Linked DNA regions of Homo sapiens: region 1 is linked to region 2. The links come from fine-mapping of genetic effects on gene expression. Tissue or cell type: activated CD8 T cells. Region 2 holds a variant in brackets; the other region holds the start of a gene. All regions are shown on one strand. Distances are from middle to middle.

What was found. PIP is the estimated chance that this variant, and not a neighbour inherited with it, causes the effect.
Region 1: FAM107B starts here. The variant in region 2 is fine-mapped to the expression of FAM107B in activated CD8 T cells (Schmiedel 2018, PIP 0.95).

What each region holds. Positions count from the first base shown.
Region 1 is chr10:14,770,376-14,778,532 of GRCh38, forward strand. FAM107B (family with sequence similarity 107 member B) reads right to left here and starts at 4,522. Exons shown (of 5, transcript NM_031453.4): 1 at 3,878-4,522. The coding sequence starts at 4,288.
Region 2 is chr10:14,653,144-14,661,341 of GRCh38, forward strand. The region is part of intron 2 of FAM107B (family with sequence similarity 107 member B); the gene reads right to left. LOC105376429 (a long non-coding RNA gene) reads left to right here. Exons shown (of 5, transcript XR_930691.4): 2 at 691-823; 3 at 1,887-2,022; 4 at 3,026-3,081; 5 at 6,793-7,438. Among named protein-coding and RNA genes, the nearest start is that of FAM107B, 120 kb to the right of the region's middle. RefSeq lists an enhancer at 6,904-6,993. The variant A/G (reference allele first, on the strand shown) is at 4,930.

The sequences.
Region 1 (8,157 bases), 120 kb after region 2:
AGCCAGGCGTGGTGGCTGGCGCCTGTAATCCCAGCTACTTGGGATGCTGAGGCAGGAGAATTACTTGAACACGGGAGGCAGAAGTTGCAGTGAGCCGAGATCGCACCACTACACTCCAGTCTGGGTGATGGAGCAAGACTCTGCCTCAAAAAAATAAAAATAAAAATAAAATAAAATAAACAGCAGTACTGCTGAATTTCGTTGAGTCTACAATTCCATCAATGATATGACACTTCAACTACAAGACCACTAAGAAGGGGAAAAGTTATCATTAAGAGGTACTAACAATTATAAGACACATTCCCATTTTAGGGTTGTTATCACTTTGGTTTCAGGTCTGGAACAGAAAAGAGATGAATACAAAAAGTTGAAGACTGATCAATAGCATTTCTTCAATACAGACATGTGCGCTCATCACTAAACCAAACAAAAATGTTTCATATTTGCTTAGTTTGTTTAGCTTCATTACCTCAAGCTTTCTCTCTTGAACCAGATATTGTTTCCAATATAAATGAGCCACCCTCCTGTCTGAACATCAGGTAACTGAAGATAGAGAGAGGGGCTTGTCCCCATTTCTTACCTTATGTCTGAGGCTGAACTAAAAAAAAAAAAAAAAAAAAAAAAAAAAAGATTATTTGTGGCCTCTACAGAGGCAGCTTAAATAATGAGGATCAGTGCATCCAAAAGGGAAATATTTTTCCGCCAGGCAAGATTGTAATAAAAGCATCTCATTCATCATCTGCTAAGGGAAAACATGCCATTGCAAAGTCACTTGGTAATGAAAAATCTGGGCAGTTCTAAGCCACTTTTAATCAGAAGATCTCAAAGCAATCCCCCACACTGCCAGCGGCAAAGCTTTGTCACTCACAGGATGCAAAATGGACATCTTCTGTGGTGTTATATACCATGAAGCTATGGTAGAAAAGGGTAAAGCATATGAATAAAAACAAATAATAATAGTTATTGAATATCATTAAGAGGAGTTGGTTACTGGATACAAAAGTACAGTTAGAAGGAACAAATTCGAGTATTCGATAGTACGGTGGAGAAGTTATAGTTAACAATAATTTATTGTGTATTTCAAAATAGCTAGAAGACAGGAATTGTAATGTTCTCAACACAGGGAAAAGGTAAGTGTTTGAGGTGGTAGATATCCCAGTTACCCTGATTTAATTACACATTTATACATGTATACATACCCCAAAAAATATACAACTGTGATATATCAATTAAAATAACAACAAATAAAAATAAATTAAAAAACAAATAATAATTATATCGACATCAACATATAAATACATGGAATTAATTTATTCATTTTTGTAGAGATGAACCTTCGTTATGTTGCCCAGGCTGGTCTCAAACTTCTGGTCTCAAGTGATTCTCCCTCCTTGGCTTTCCAAAGCTCTGGGTGACAGGCATGAGCCACTATGCCCAGCCAATATGTATGATATTTAAATGTGATTGAGTATCAAGCGAGATCACATATGAATAGTTGATCCTAAATCCTCAAACACTACACAATTAATTAGTAGTAGAAGCACATTATAATTCAGAGGATGGACTTTGGAGTCAAACAGAAGTGGGTTCCAGTCCTGTCTCTGCCACATCCTCTCTTTGTGGCCTTGGGCAAATGTCTTACCCTCTTTAAGCATCCATGCCCTCCTCTGTAACATGGGCACCATAAGAATATGCACTGGCCGGGCATGGTGGCTCACTCCTGTAATCCCAGCACTTTGGGAGGCTGGGCGGGGGAGTCATGAGGACAGGAGATCGAGACCATCCTGGCTAACACGGTGAAATCCCATCTCTACTGAAAATACAAAAACTTAGCTGGGCCTGGTGGCAGGCACCTGTAGTCCCAGCCACTCGTGGGGCTGAGGCAGGAGAATTGCTTGAACCTGGGAGGCAGAGGCTGCAGTGAGCCAAGATCGTGCCACTGCACTCCAGCCTGGGAGACAGAGCAAGACTCCATCTTAAAAAAAAAATATATATATATATATATGCACCTCACTGTCACCAGGGTTGGCTGAGATACTCTGTGTAAAGCACTTAGAATAAGGGCTAGCGAACTACAAGTGCTCTGCACAGCTTAGCTCTCGGTGTTTGAACTAGAATAGATGCCCATTTACCCACATCAGGCCCTCTTCCTGCACCTCCTGGCACTTGATTTCAGTGTTTGCATTGCATCACTGCTTCCCTCCCTGCCTGGTTTGGACCGCACAGTCAACTGCCGCGTGTCCTGCCTCATGGAGCCCCTCCCACTTTATCTCCCTGTTGTTCCTGTCTGGATTGTTACAATGTCCTCTCTGCTCCGGGCTTCCCAACTGTAATCCATCCTACGCTGTGGACCACCCATGGCTTTGCTCCTGCCAAGTGGACACTAAACATGGATGTGGCCCCATTTTGTGTTATTGGTTCTATTTGAATTCACATGCTTGCCTTGAGTCCCTGAGTCCCATGTGCAACTAAAACAGAAAGATAAAATCAAAGTAACCCTTTGTTCTTGCGGCTGTCTTCAGTAATATAAGGTGGGTCTGCATTGCTCAACAGAAAGTCTTCCGGTTCATTAAAACTGTACATCATTGGTACCATAAATATCCAACAAATATCAACTTGGCCATGAATTCTAATCAGCTACCTATAATACTACCAAAAATATCTTAATCTGGATGTGGCTATACACTGAAAATTTTGGTTTTTGCTGGTTGGTTATGGGCTTTGGTTTAGTGGTGCTAGAAAAAAACATAGCAGTTTTTGCTGTGACAGAGGATATGGTAAAACTCTCTGTCCAATTTCAGAATGCAGACGACAGACCCAAGCTTCAGTCATTTCATATAAACCTGCAGGGTGTCAAATGAAACTATTTTTTAAATGATGTTTTAACCCTATCTTTGCTGGTTGGCTGTGTTCTTGCTAAGGAGGCTTCTTAGATTCTGTGAAGCAAGCCAGACCAAAAAATAATTTGTTAAACGGATGTGGAAAAATGATTTAAAAAATCAGAATACTTTAGTGATGGATCCCCAAAGACTTCTCAGTTTTTTAAGTCTGGTCCTAAGCTACTTGGCTAGGAAATGACCAAAAATGGTCAAGAGATATCTTTGGAGTGTACCTTTTAGAAAACCTTTCCTCTACACTGCATCTGCAAACTGGGATTACCGGGAACTTTGAAATAATTGTACAGCTCCATCTAATCAGAATACTCAACAATTAAAATTCACTGATGCCAAAAATGGAAAGAAAATAAGTAAATAACTCTTAAGAGCAGTGGCACCATTTTTTTTAAATAACTTCCTCCTCCTGCCTTCAACTCTCAGAAGATTATCACAAAAACATCCATATTATGAATAGTTTTATAGGTCAGTTCCCTTCCGTACCACTAGGCATACACTGATGATCATTTCCAAATTTTTCCAGACTGCTTTGATATCATGTGATTCATTTTAAGTAGAGGCAGTTTTGTGAATTCCCTAGCCAAACTTTTTAGATTGTGGATTTTCATATAAATAAATTGACAGACCGGTGGGGGTGGAGGGGGAAATAGAAAAAGGAAAAAAATGTTTTTGTAAACTATCTTACTCCTAATCTGTTATTGAGTGAGCCATTTTTGGCTCTAAGGCACCCTAGCCCGTTAATTCAAGGTTACCTTCGGTCATTGCCATGGCTCCAGTGCTTATTATCATTGCCTCATCCACATCTTTTGAGAACACTCTGAGAATCTACACGGCTTTAACACACTTCTTCGCACTAGTGAGAACGCCCGCAATGCCTTATTCAGTAAGGTTAAATGAGTTTGTTTGCTGAAACATTCGCCACATGATCCCAACGCTCCTCCAGCTCCATCCCGTCTATAATCGCAGAGCGAACACTCACTCACCTTGGGCGTGTCAATAATTGATGGTCTGGGGATGGAAGCGTGAAACACCACTGCTTCACAGTCCGCCCCATCATCCAGGGACCCGGGCACATCTTCAGGCGTCTCCGCGGGCTGGGCCGCAGTGCGGTGACTTGAATTCCGATTCGCACTGCCATTTCTCTCTGCATGGGTGCTCGAATCTTGCCTTTTCTCTGGAGCTCCTTCTGCGCTTGGGTGTCTTGGCTGTCTGCCTGCTTTGGCCACAGGCTGCACACGGACGGTGGAATGAGTATCAGCCACGCCGGACTGATTGAAGGAAGCACTCTCCCTCGTATTCCCAAAACAGGCGAGCAGAGCTGAGCACGGAAATGGATGCATGCTTCTAGAGGGAGACTTCAGTCTTTTGGTGAGTCTTGCTTTCCACGTGGACATGACTTGCAGTGAATCATTGCAAAGTTCAAACGGGGCAAGGAAATTTTCCAGGGGTCCACATCACCTCCACTTTGCTTATAGGAACTCTTTCCAATTGCCCGAAGAGAAGAACTTGCTAGTGGTTGCCCCTAAATAGAAGTTGGGATGGCAAGGCCACCTTCCCTGAGAGTCACTTAGCCGCTGGGGCCCCTTTGAAAGTGTCCATCCTGGGCAATTTCGCGCTCTTCCTTCTGTGATGCTGTCAGTGGCTAAAGAAAGCTGTTGGGGAGGCATGTGAGTGGCTCCGGTTACAGTTCCTAGGCAGGGCAGACGCTTCAGGGTAGGGTAGTGCCAAGTCAATAGACAATTGCTTCAGGTTACCTAGGAGGCATAAAGATAATGTAGCCTGATAGCATCTGCCATAATAGCGTCAGCCTGCGTATCAATAACATCATAACAGCAGCAAAACCTTCTTTGGTTACCCCCCTTCAAATATTTATTCCCCCAAACAAAACAAAAACGACCCAGTTGTCCATCACAAATGAAGACCCCTAGAAGGGCCACGACCCTAGCAGCTGTTTCATTATTAAAATAGGAGGTAGACTCAATCTTTCGCCTGGAGAGATGCGGTGTGATGTGTTTTCTGAATCTTTCTGGACTTTTCGGGATCTTTCCGGAATCTTCCCGGAATCTTCCCCCCACCCTCAAAACAAGTTTCCTGGTTTCAGGATCCACATTGCCTTTTCTGATAACTATAAATAGGTCTTTGGTAATTTGATTTTTTTTTTTTTACTAGCTAGGCTAAGTTCTTGATTAGTTTTCAACAATACCAAAAAGAAAAAAGAGAGCCCTACATTAACAATTATCCTTATGTATTATGTTATTATGTGTGGAGGTATTATGTACATGTGAAGTATTCTACCTATATGGTATATATCACCTACTTTCAGAAAGTAACTCCTTTTTGAACATAGATCTTCTGTTTCTCAACACATTAATATGTGAATGGTGAAAAATAATAAATTATAAACATATTCTAAGACAATTCAGAATCAAGATTTTTCCTTAGCCAACTGTCTGCTAGGAATGTTATAGAAATGTAATACTGTAATGCTTTTACCGTTAATAGTGATTTTAGGGTCAAGATTTCTGGGCATGTTACCCACTCTTAATTAATTTGTTTGCTCTCTCTTTTAATTTAATGTCAAGATGTGCTCTTTGGCCCAGACAGGTGGTAGTTATTATATTATGGCACTGATTCCCGTTTTACAGAGGCAGAAACCAATTCTTTGAAATTTCATGTGACTAAGGCAAGTTTATGCCACTAAGAAGGGCTTGTTGGGTGCCCGAGATCCCTGTTCTCCTATCTGTCCTCTGAGTCTCATTCTATCTAACAATCATTTTATAGATGTAATGGCCATACGGGAAATATTGTTCTAAATGGACAGTCATATTCATAATACAAAAAGGCAGATATGGCTTTAGAATGAGTGGATATGGCATCAAATGCACATTTTATTTTAGTCTCTACTGAAAGTTAGAATATAGAAAGCTTCCATTTATTTAGAGGTTACCGTGTGGCAGGCCCCGTGCTATCCAAGCTGTTTCTGGCTTCCCAGGGTTGTGAGCTCATTCTTTTTTCATTGTGTCCCAAGTGCAAGCTGTCCAAATTCCCCACCCATAAGAAATCAGGGGGTTCAGGTTTCTACCAGGGTCCCCCCTCCCAGATATTCCTGGAGACCCCTCGGAACTGCACTTTGTCTCCCATTTGACTTGGTTGCTACAGTCCACTCGGGTCGGGTCGTGCCATGCTGTGCCCCTCCAAGCACACGTATAGTAAATCGGGGCTGTGATGCTGCATAAGACATTTTTGAAGGCTTGGAGGTAACAGGAAGGGATTTAAGAAAAGAAAAATGCACTCTTACACCTGGTTTCATTCACTCATTCATATATTCATTCAATTATGTGTCAAGCCCCTTTTGGAACAGAGAGTCAGCAGTTCACAGTGCAGCTTGCGAGCGGCCACATTCAGGAGACCGCTGAGGAAGAAAGCTCAGAGCCACTTTCTAGGTCTGCGGAGGCCCTGGGCTTGCATCCGGGCTCTGAGGACCACCTCTCCTCGCTCAGTGGGTGTGCTCAGAGGCACGCATGAACTCATCGGAGTTCCAGCACTGGCCCGCTAAGAACAGTAGACTTTCTGATTAGTGTGTTGCTAAGTCTGACCTAGAATAACACTCAGTAACAGGCCATGGTTATTGAGTGTTTGGTATCAGACATGAATCTCAGCAAATTAACTCATTTAATCCTCACAACCCTAGAAGAAAGGTGATATTATTATTCCCATTTTTACTCATTAGAAAACCAAGACACAGAAACTTAAGTAACTTGCCCAAGGTCACAGCACTGCTTAAGGAAATGAGAAAAGGTGATGAGTCCAGCAACCTGGCCCCAGAGCTCATACTTTTCTCAGTATGCAATCCTGCTTTCCAAAAACACACATGCACGTGCACACACACAGATACATACTCCAGAGAGGACATTTCCAATGACCTTGATCCAACACTCTACCTCTAAGAAGTTATTTTGTAATGACGATCTTTAAAAAGTCAGGAAACAACAGATGCTGGAGAGGATGTGGAGAAATAGGAACACTTTTACACTGTTGGTGGGAGTGTAAATTAGTTCAACCATTGTGAAAGACAGTGTAGAGATTCCTCAAGGATCTAGAACTAGAAATACCATTTGACCCAGCCATCCCATTACTGGGTATATACCCAAAGGATTATAAATCATGCTACTATAAAGGCACATGCACACGTATGTTTATTGTGGCACTATTCACAATAGCAAAGACTTGGAACCAACCCATATGTCCACCAACAATAGACTGGATAAAGAAAATGTGGCACATATATACCATGGAATACTATGCAGCCATAAAAAAGGATGAGTTCATGTCCTTTACATGGACATGGGTAAAGCTGGAAACCATCATTCTCAGCAAAATATCACAAGGACAGAAAACCAAACACCGTATGCTCTCACTCATAAGTGGGAGTTGAACAATGAGAACACATGGACACAGGGAGGGGAACATCACATAGCAGGGCCTGTCAGGGGGTGGGGGCTGAGGGAGGGATAGCATCAGGAGAAATACCTAACGTAAATGACGAGCTGATGGGTGCAGCAAACCAACACGGCACATGTATACCTATGTAACAAACCTGCACGTTGTGCACATGTACCCTAGAACTTAAGGTATAATAATTTTTTTAAAAAAGAATTTATTCTGTAGATATACTTGTGCATAAATGTATGTCCCAGAATGTTCGCAGCACCAGAGTTTGTAATCACAAAATTAATTGTTAATCAATAGAAGACAAGTTCATATATAAGAAAACATCTGGCTGGGCGTGATGGCTCATGCCTGTAATCCCAACACTTTGGGAGGCCTAGGTGGGAGGGCCCTTTGAGGCCAGGAGAGTTCAAGGCCCGTCTGGGCAACATAGTGAGCCACCGTGTCTACAAAAAAAAAGTTTTAAAAATCAGTTGGGCATGGTGGTGAGTGTCTTAAGTCCCAGCTACTTGAGAGGCTGAAGTGGGAGGATCGCTTGAGCCCAGGAGGTGGAGGTTGCAGTGAACCGAGATTGCCCCACTGCACTCCAGAGCCTGGGTGGCAGCCCCTCGCAAGCTGCACTGTGAACAGCTGATTCTCTCCAGAAGGGGCTTGGCACATAATTGAATGAATAAATGAATGAGTGAATGAAATCAGGTGTAAGAATGGATTTTTCTTTTCTTAAATCCCTTCCTGTGACCTCCAAGCCTTCAAAAATGTCTTGTGCACCATCATATTTTAAGACTCTGTCTTAAAAATAAAAAATTTAAAAAAC
Region 2 (8,198 bases):
TGGTCCACTGCCACGGTATTTACAATTAAGGCCAAATACTAGAATCAGGCCTTTGCAAAATGTGCCCTGACTTTTTGAGTCTTAGAACTGTTCTGTTTCCATGGCTCAGAAAAAGCCAAGGGCAGTTTGTTCTTTTTATCAGTTTCTCCTTGGAGAAGAAAGCTGAAAATTTCCATGATTACCATGCACACTGGAGTTATGCTGATCGAAATCTATCTAAAAGGTGCCAGGCACACAGCCAGGCGGGCAAATGCTCTCAAAGGCAATTTCACATCACCAGCCTTGCTGAGCAAGAACAGAAGCTGTTCTTCACTCCAGCCTCTCAGGAGCACACAGTGGCCTCTCAGTTCCCCTTTCAAGGAAGAGCTCTGGGAGAAAAGCCCATGGTTCGGGAACTTTTCCTGAGACCTCTAAGCACCTGTGCCATCATGGTGCAAGCTAGAACTGTTATTTCTAGCTGTGCAGCCACAGTCATCCATGTGGTTCCATTTCCTTGGTGGCAATGCACAGTTGCAAAATATTTTGTAATTATTCATTACTGAAATCACAAAAATGCCCCTAAAAAGTATAGTATTAGCCTCTTATACACAGTAAAATGTAACCGCGGGAAACTTCAGGGAATTGTGTAAAGATCACTGGGTGAGGTAACGCCCACAAGCTTGAGGCTAGTGTTTTCTCCTGTTTCCATAGCAATGACCCCACACGATCTTACCTGCTCCTCAGACCACAGCCAAGGAAGAGATTTCTGACAAACAAGCAAAAACACAACACTGTCCACACAACTGTAAATATGCAAGGAAGAGTTTCTTCTTGCCTGAAAACTGTAAGGTTTATTATTTGTTTGTGTTTCTTCCTTTCATCTCATATTTCTTCTAACGTCATAAGCCTGGCATTTAAACCCCAAATGCCTGCAGGGGCCAGGCAGGATAGGGAGGTACCAGCTAAAAAGGCAACTCCAGTTGATTTTTTTTTTTTTTCCACTGCTTAGGAATGCAGGCCTGGTTTGGCTAGTTCTTACAATTTCTCAAGAGAAATTGGAACCTAGATTTTTACATGAAATTTTCCAGTTTTTAAACATTGGCAACCAATTTTCAAAAAATTTGCAAGCCACAAAAACACATCTACAGCTGAGTTTGCTCTGGTTGTAACATCAGTCATAAGCAGTTGAAATAACCTTTCGGGTCTTCAGAATTACTTCCTATTTTCTGAATATCTGTGTGGAATATAGACCGCATATTAACCCTAATTATTAATTACAGCTATGCATTAATTCATTAATGAAAGCCATAATTCATTGGAGAAAGGTCTTTAGTAACATATTGCTGTTGCGTTTTATTATCTCTTGCTCTCATCATCTCTCTGTGGTGAAGGATAAGAAATCAGAGGTGATCTTAGCTAGTTTCGTTTAAGACTCTTAGCTGTTGTTTAAGGCTCAAAACAAAATATCTGATTATGTATTCCATTTTGCACAGAAACAAACAGCATTTAATCCAAATATTTTGGCCCACATAGGGTAATTCAAAAATAAATGATTTTATGATTTAAGTCCATTCTTACGCTCAAATAAGCATGTTCAAGTTGAGTTGAAATACACCAGTAACTAAGTAGATATGCTTTGCGATAGTCAACTTCAAGGTGAAAAAATCCCGTTCCCTTTTACTAATCATTAAAATCATTAAATGCCCCTCAGTGGATGCATAGAACACTGTGTTCAGAAAAGGTCAGAGAACTGTGTTCAGAAAAGGAATTTTAAGAAGCTTGAGAATGCTACCATTTTAACCAGTCTGTGGGGTAGTGTCTCAGTTCATTCTGCATTGCTATAAAGAAATACCTGAGGCTGGGTAATTCATAAAGGAAAGAGGTTGATTTGACTCATGGTTCTGCAGGCTGTACAAGCATGGCACCAGCATCTGAGGCAAAAGGGGAGCTGGCATGTGCAGAGATTACATGGCAAGAGAGGATGCAAGAGAGAGAGAACGAGGTGCCAGATTCTTTAACCGTCAGATCTCATGGGAAATAAGGGTGAGAGCTCCGTCAATCCATCAAGATTGACACTAAGCCATTCATGAAGAAGGATCTGCACTTATGACCAAAACACCTCCCTTTAGTCCCCACCTCCAACACTGGGGATCAAATTTCAACATGAGATTTGGAGGGGACAAATATCCAAACCATAGCAGTAGTAAGTAGTCAAAGAAGATAGTTTGCATTTAGTGTTTTAATTATTTTTGATAGGGTTTTCTTTTCTTTTTTTTCTATCTCAGCCTCACAAATATTTTGTTTTGTTTTGTTTTGTGACGGAGTCTTGCTCTGTCGCCTAGGCTGGAGCGCAGTGGCGCAATCTTGGCCCACTGCAACCTCCGCCTCCCAGGTTCAAGCGATTCTCCTGCCTCAGCCTCCCGAGTAGCTGGCACAAACGTTTTAAAATATGTTATGGTTGTGTTCAACACAGTGACTGTGCCAAGGGACCCTCTCTTAGTTCAGGTTCCCTTAGAAGTAGACCCTGAGGCAGGGATTCAGGGAGAAGCAGTTCATATGTGAAGGGAACAGGAGGAGAGGTGGGAAGCCGGGACAGGGGAGGGAAAGCAGCCACCACAGGATTTATGCAGCTGGCTACTCCTGTAGGGACTGAGGCTTAACCCTCCTGGGGATCCCTGGGAGCCAGCTCCACAGCTACCTACCCTAGGGAAAGTGAGCTGCAGTATTTATTCACAAAGTCTGATCAGGGATTGGGTGACAATTACTCCTCAGGGGCTTGAGGCAGGTTCTGGGGTGAGAGGAAGCCTTTACAGAGAGGCATGCAGGTGCCAGAAGTGGGGTCACAGGCACTGAAGTGAAGGGCAAGGGGAGAGGGGCTGGGTGCTGAGTGTCGGCCATGCACTCCAACTTCATCAGCTCCTCCTCCCCATCGCTGATATAAACAATTGATATTTTCTCATCTTCCATAAAGCGCTGTGCAGGAACGACTTTAGGACAAGTCCTTTAATGTCTTTTCAACCTGTTCTGGCCCCTGTGCTCCTCCTAGATACAAATTCTGGAGCAGCAACTGATTTACCAGGAAACACTGAGGAGTAGAGCAAGGTAAGGTGGCTCCTACACCACTCCGAACCAGTGTGGGGCATGGGGGCGATAAAGAGGCTGACTTCACAGGGAACTTCCAGGGCCAAAATTTCACTTCATTTGAAGGTTTTCAGGAAAACATGGGTAAATTGCAAAAGCAACGCCAACAATTACCATCTTTGAGATTTGAAAACTTTGGATTTTCTCTCTTGGGAGGCTTTGTGACCACCAGTTGAAATTTCTAGATGACAATTTCCACCTTCCATGTCATCAGAATGGAAGGAGAGGTGCACTCCAAGGAGACAAGTGACTGGACATTCGGGTTCCTGGCATGCAATACAAGTTCTTCTTTTTATACCAATGTGGGGGAAGGAAGTGAGAAGTAAGAAGTGGGTAGAGAGATTCCTCCAGGATGCAAACAGTTAAAGATCATCACTTTACTTCTGATTTTGGATGTTAATGTCACCTTCAGAATTCCTCCTTCTCTAAGAAATTTTTACAAAGGGCCAACATTAAATTTTAAACAAACAAATAAGAAAATAGTAAAAGAAAGTGAAAGAGTGTAGAAACGCAGCTTGCAGCACACACAAAAAATTAGGCAATTCTGCTTCAATTTGTGCACACTGAAAATTTCATTCCTGGTAACCGGTAACTGGTTCACCTTACAACCTGGGCAAACTTCTGGAAAGTTCCATGCCTCCATTCCCACTGTGTTAAGAGGACATAGGATTGGATGGAGAAGAATAGGTCATACTAACTAGACTACTGAGGTGTCCCATGGGCATGTGAGCACAATGTCAAGGCTAAACAGCTTGCTGCACAGGTGCAGCTCAGCTCCTCTTTAAGGCACATGTGCCCAGTCCATCAACACCACATCAGGCTCACCTTGAATACAGAGGACTAAATCAAACCCTCATTTTAGGTATTTTTGTATTTTCCCATTTATGAACAATAAATGATCTGTTAAATTTCCTAAACAGAAAAATCTGGAAGCAATTTGCTCTCTGCCCATGTAGAGAGGGGAAAGCACAGACTGCTCTCCAATGACTCTGAGGAGGATGAATGACAGGGTTTCCAAACCCTGAGTGGTAACACCACTTAACAGATTCGGCCTAGGAGGGTGCTTTGTACTTGGAAATCCTATCTCATTAGCCTGACACCTTCTCAAGGCAAAATGGCAGAGGACTGGACACAGATTGGCACATCTTGAAATAGGCAGGCCAGGAAGTCTCGTTCACTTCAGACTAGGAGCATACCATTGCTGGCCTTACCCTCCCAAAGACAGACACCTCCAGCCCCAAATCTTCACCCCCACCCCTGGTCACCAGAGAAACATCTCCTTGGATTCCAGGGCAATTTCCACAGACTTAGCATGTGGAAATAAATCTAGAACCTAGATGGAAAACCAACCAACTTTCTCCTACTTACACTTAATAATGCAAGATTTATAAATGAGTTCTAGAAACATTTTCTCTTTGTTAATATATATTACAGCCCGTGGCCTCTTGTTCACTGGTGTTTTAAGTTCTTGGAACAGGGATTGTATGACTTTCATGTCTATGTTCTTCTAATAAACCTCCAGCAACAAGCATGTTGCCACCTTCACTTTTTTTTTTCCTTTTTTTTGAGGCTGGTCTCACTCTGTCGCCCAGTCTGGAGTGCAGTGGCGCGATCCCAGCTCACTGCAGCCTTGGCAGCCCAGACTCAAGAGATCCTCCCACCTCAGCCTCCCAAGTAGCTGGGACTGCAGTCACACACCACCACACCCGGCTAATGTTTTCTCTTTTTTTGTAGGTTGGGGTTTTGTCATGTTGCTCAAGCTGGTCTCCAACTCCTGGGCTCAAGCAATCCACCCACTTCGGCCCCCCA[A/G]AGTGCTGGGATTACAGGCGTAATTAGCACCTGGCTAACCTTCATTTCTTGGGAAGAATTTATACGACAGTGAAAATCCAATTACTATTATTTGAAATAGAGACAAAATGTTGAGATTCTTTAGACTAAAATACAAGCTATGATAGTTGAGTCCCATAAAAGAGTTTAGAGGTCAGGTCTTCACTGAAAGTCATCATCTACAACCCCCAGGAGCATTTCCCCTAAGAAAAGACTTCCTGTGACCCCACAGACTGTCCTACGGTTAAGGGAACAGAAAGAAAGTAAACTCAGGACAAAGGAAGTCTATTTAGCATCTTGAAGGCAAGACCCATGTCTGACCCATGTCTGACTCATCTTTGACTCTCCGTGGATTAGCATGGTTTGCTTTATATGTGTTAAGTACCCAAATAAACAACAGTTTTTACATCAAAAGTCACGTTGTAAACCAGACTCAATCATTCATTCATGCATGCATACTTTAGTCAAACAACCATTACTTTTCAGTTCCTACATAGTCCAAGAATTGTGCGAGGAGCTGGGGGCAGAAAACAAAGAGAAAAAGACGCAATTCCAGTTTCTGACTCATCTGCTTCACTTGATTTAGCCAAAAGGCCAAGAAGTGATTGATTCATCTACTTGCTTCAGCAAGTTTAAAAAGAGCAAGGGTTCATTCCCCATTTAATAAATATTCACTGAGTGCCTCCTATATGTCAGGCTCCATCCTAGGCATTCATTATGTTTGCAGCAGGACAAAAAATGGTCAAACATCCCTGCCTTCATGATGCTTACCTTCTAGAAGGGGACGACAGACAAAAAGCAAGTGAATTATATAATGTGTGGATAGTGACAAGTGGTTTCAAAAACCAAAACAAACAAGGAAGTAAGAGTTGAAGGAAAGGTTGCAGTTTTGCAGAAAGTGGTCAAGGAAGCTCTCACTGAAAACAAAGACCCAACAGAAGGAGCTGTGCAGACCAAAAAGTCCCATAAAGAGTCTGGGGACCAGGTCTTCACTAAAAGTCCTCTACTATCCCCAGTAGCATTTTCCGTAATTAAAGGCCTCCCATGAACCCTCAAACTGTCTGCCCTGGCTGGGCACGGTGGCTCACACCTGTAATCCTAGCACTTTGGGAGGCTGAGGTGGGTGGATCACCTAAGGTCAGGAGTTTGAGACCAGCCTCACCAACATGGCAAAACCCCGTCTCTACTGAAAATACAAAAATTAGCTGGGCATGGTGGCGCGCACCTGTAGTCTCAGCTCCTCCGGAGGCTGAGGCAGGAGAATTGCTGGTGGGGAGGGGGCAGAGGTTGCAGTGAGCTGAGATTGCCCCACTTCACTCCAGCCTAGGTGAAAGAGCAAAACTCCGTCTCAAAACAAAACAAAACAAAACAAAACAAGCAAACAAAAAACTGTCTGCCCTAAGGTTAAGGGAATGGAAAGAAAGCAAACTCAGGATAAGTTTCCCTTCTTTTTTTCTCACCTTCCTACCTCAACTGTTTTCTGTTCATCTGTGGCCAAAGACTCAGAAAAATCTGTATGGAAGATAAACAACTCTTGCACAAAATCAGAGGGGTGTGTGACTGAGATATAGTGGGTTCTGGTGGAAACTGCACTGTTGACTGTTCTCCCACGACATGAAAGTAAAAGCAGACACTTTGTCTGAATTGTCAGAAAATGGGTCTCGTTTTGTCACCTCCTAAGATGCCCAGCAAGGAGATCTGAACTCCAAGTGTCATGGACCTTCCCGCAGAGGGGCTGGCCTTATGTGCGCAGCAACAAGGAACTGCTCAGTGGAACCCCAGTCTCACTTCCCCACAGAAGTTACAAAAATACTTATTTTTTTTTCTCATTTCATCCATTTTTAGGTAAAGAATTTTAACTGTTTGGGGTTCGTTACTTCACACTTAAGAAATCTACAAACCACAGGAAATGAAACTTGACTAAATGCAGATGACACAGACAGCCAACTCCGAAAATGTGCTGGGCTCCACTCAGTTCTAGGTGACCTTTAGCAAAAAGAGGGTGTTCTGATGAAACCCTTTGACCATAACCAACAGCCTCCAACTTACAGGATTCTCCCCTCGTATGACCAAGTGGTGTAATCTTTGAGGTCCTGGCAGCACAGGTTGAGTGCAACCTAAAAGAGAATGAGGATTCCACAAGGTCTTCTGGAATGGTACACTTATTGGAAACTTGTTTCAGCATTCAAAAAAACCTGGCCTGTTTCTAAAGCAATGCATGGTTTAAGAGGAATGGCAAATTGAAGCCAACGTTTTTCAAACACATTTCACTTAAAAAAAAATGGCCACTAGAAAGAATGCAACTTATTTTCAAAAAGAATTATCTCAAGAAAGCATGGTTGGCCCATTCATCCATCTCCCTGCCCACAAGGGAATGAATGAATGAAGACAAGATGTGCCACCTCTGAAAGACTGTTAATCTCCCTCTCTCTATAAAAGTGGTACTATGTAATTTCTACTCATTTGGTTACAAATAAAATTAGTAAGTGAAGGATCCGTAGTTTCTGTATGTCACCTACAAACCTGAGTCTTTGTGCTAAAATTGTTCAAATATTCAATTGAATCTTATTCAATACCAATGCTTTTGTATATTGCATGTGGTATATGTGCATGGTGCTTGGCTTATTCTGAGAGCCATTTGGTGGAATAAGAAGAGAGTAAATGAAGCCTCATTCTAGAACTTTCTTTCTAAAGTAAAAAGGCAGAGCAACCCATAGAAGGCTCTAGAAAAGGAACACATACCATGGAAAGGAAAAAGGAAAGAGATGCTACCCAGGTCATGAGGTTTGGATTTGTGTCCTTCCCCAAACCTCATGTCAAATTGTAACCCCCAATGTTGGAGGAGGGGCCTGGCAGGAGGTGACTGGATCATGTGAGTGGATTTTCCCCTGTTCTTGTGATAGTGAGCTCTCACTAGATCTGGTTGTTTAAAAGTATGTAGCACCTTCCACTTCGCCCTCTTCCTCCTTCTCCAGCCATGTAGGACCTGCCTACTTCCCCTTCACCTTCTGCCACAACTGTAAGTTTCCCAAGGCCTCCCCAGCCACGCTTCCTGTACAGCCTGCAGAACTGTGTTCCAATTAAACCTCTTTTCTTTATAAATTATCCCGTCTCAGGTAGTTCTTTACAGCAATGCAAGAACGGACTAATTTACCAGAAAAGTGTGATGGTTGATTCTCTGTGTCAAATTGACTGCGCTAAGGGGTGCCCAGATTAAACATTATTTCTGGATGTGTCCAAGACAGTGTGTC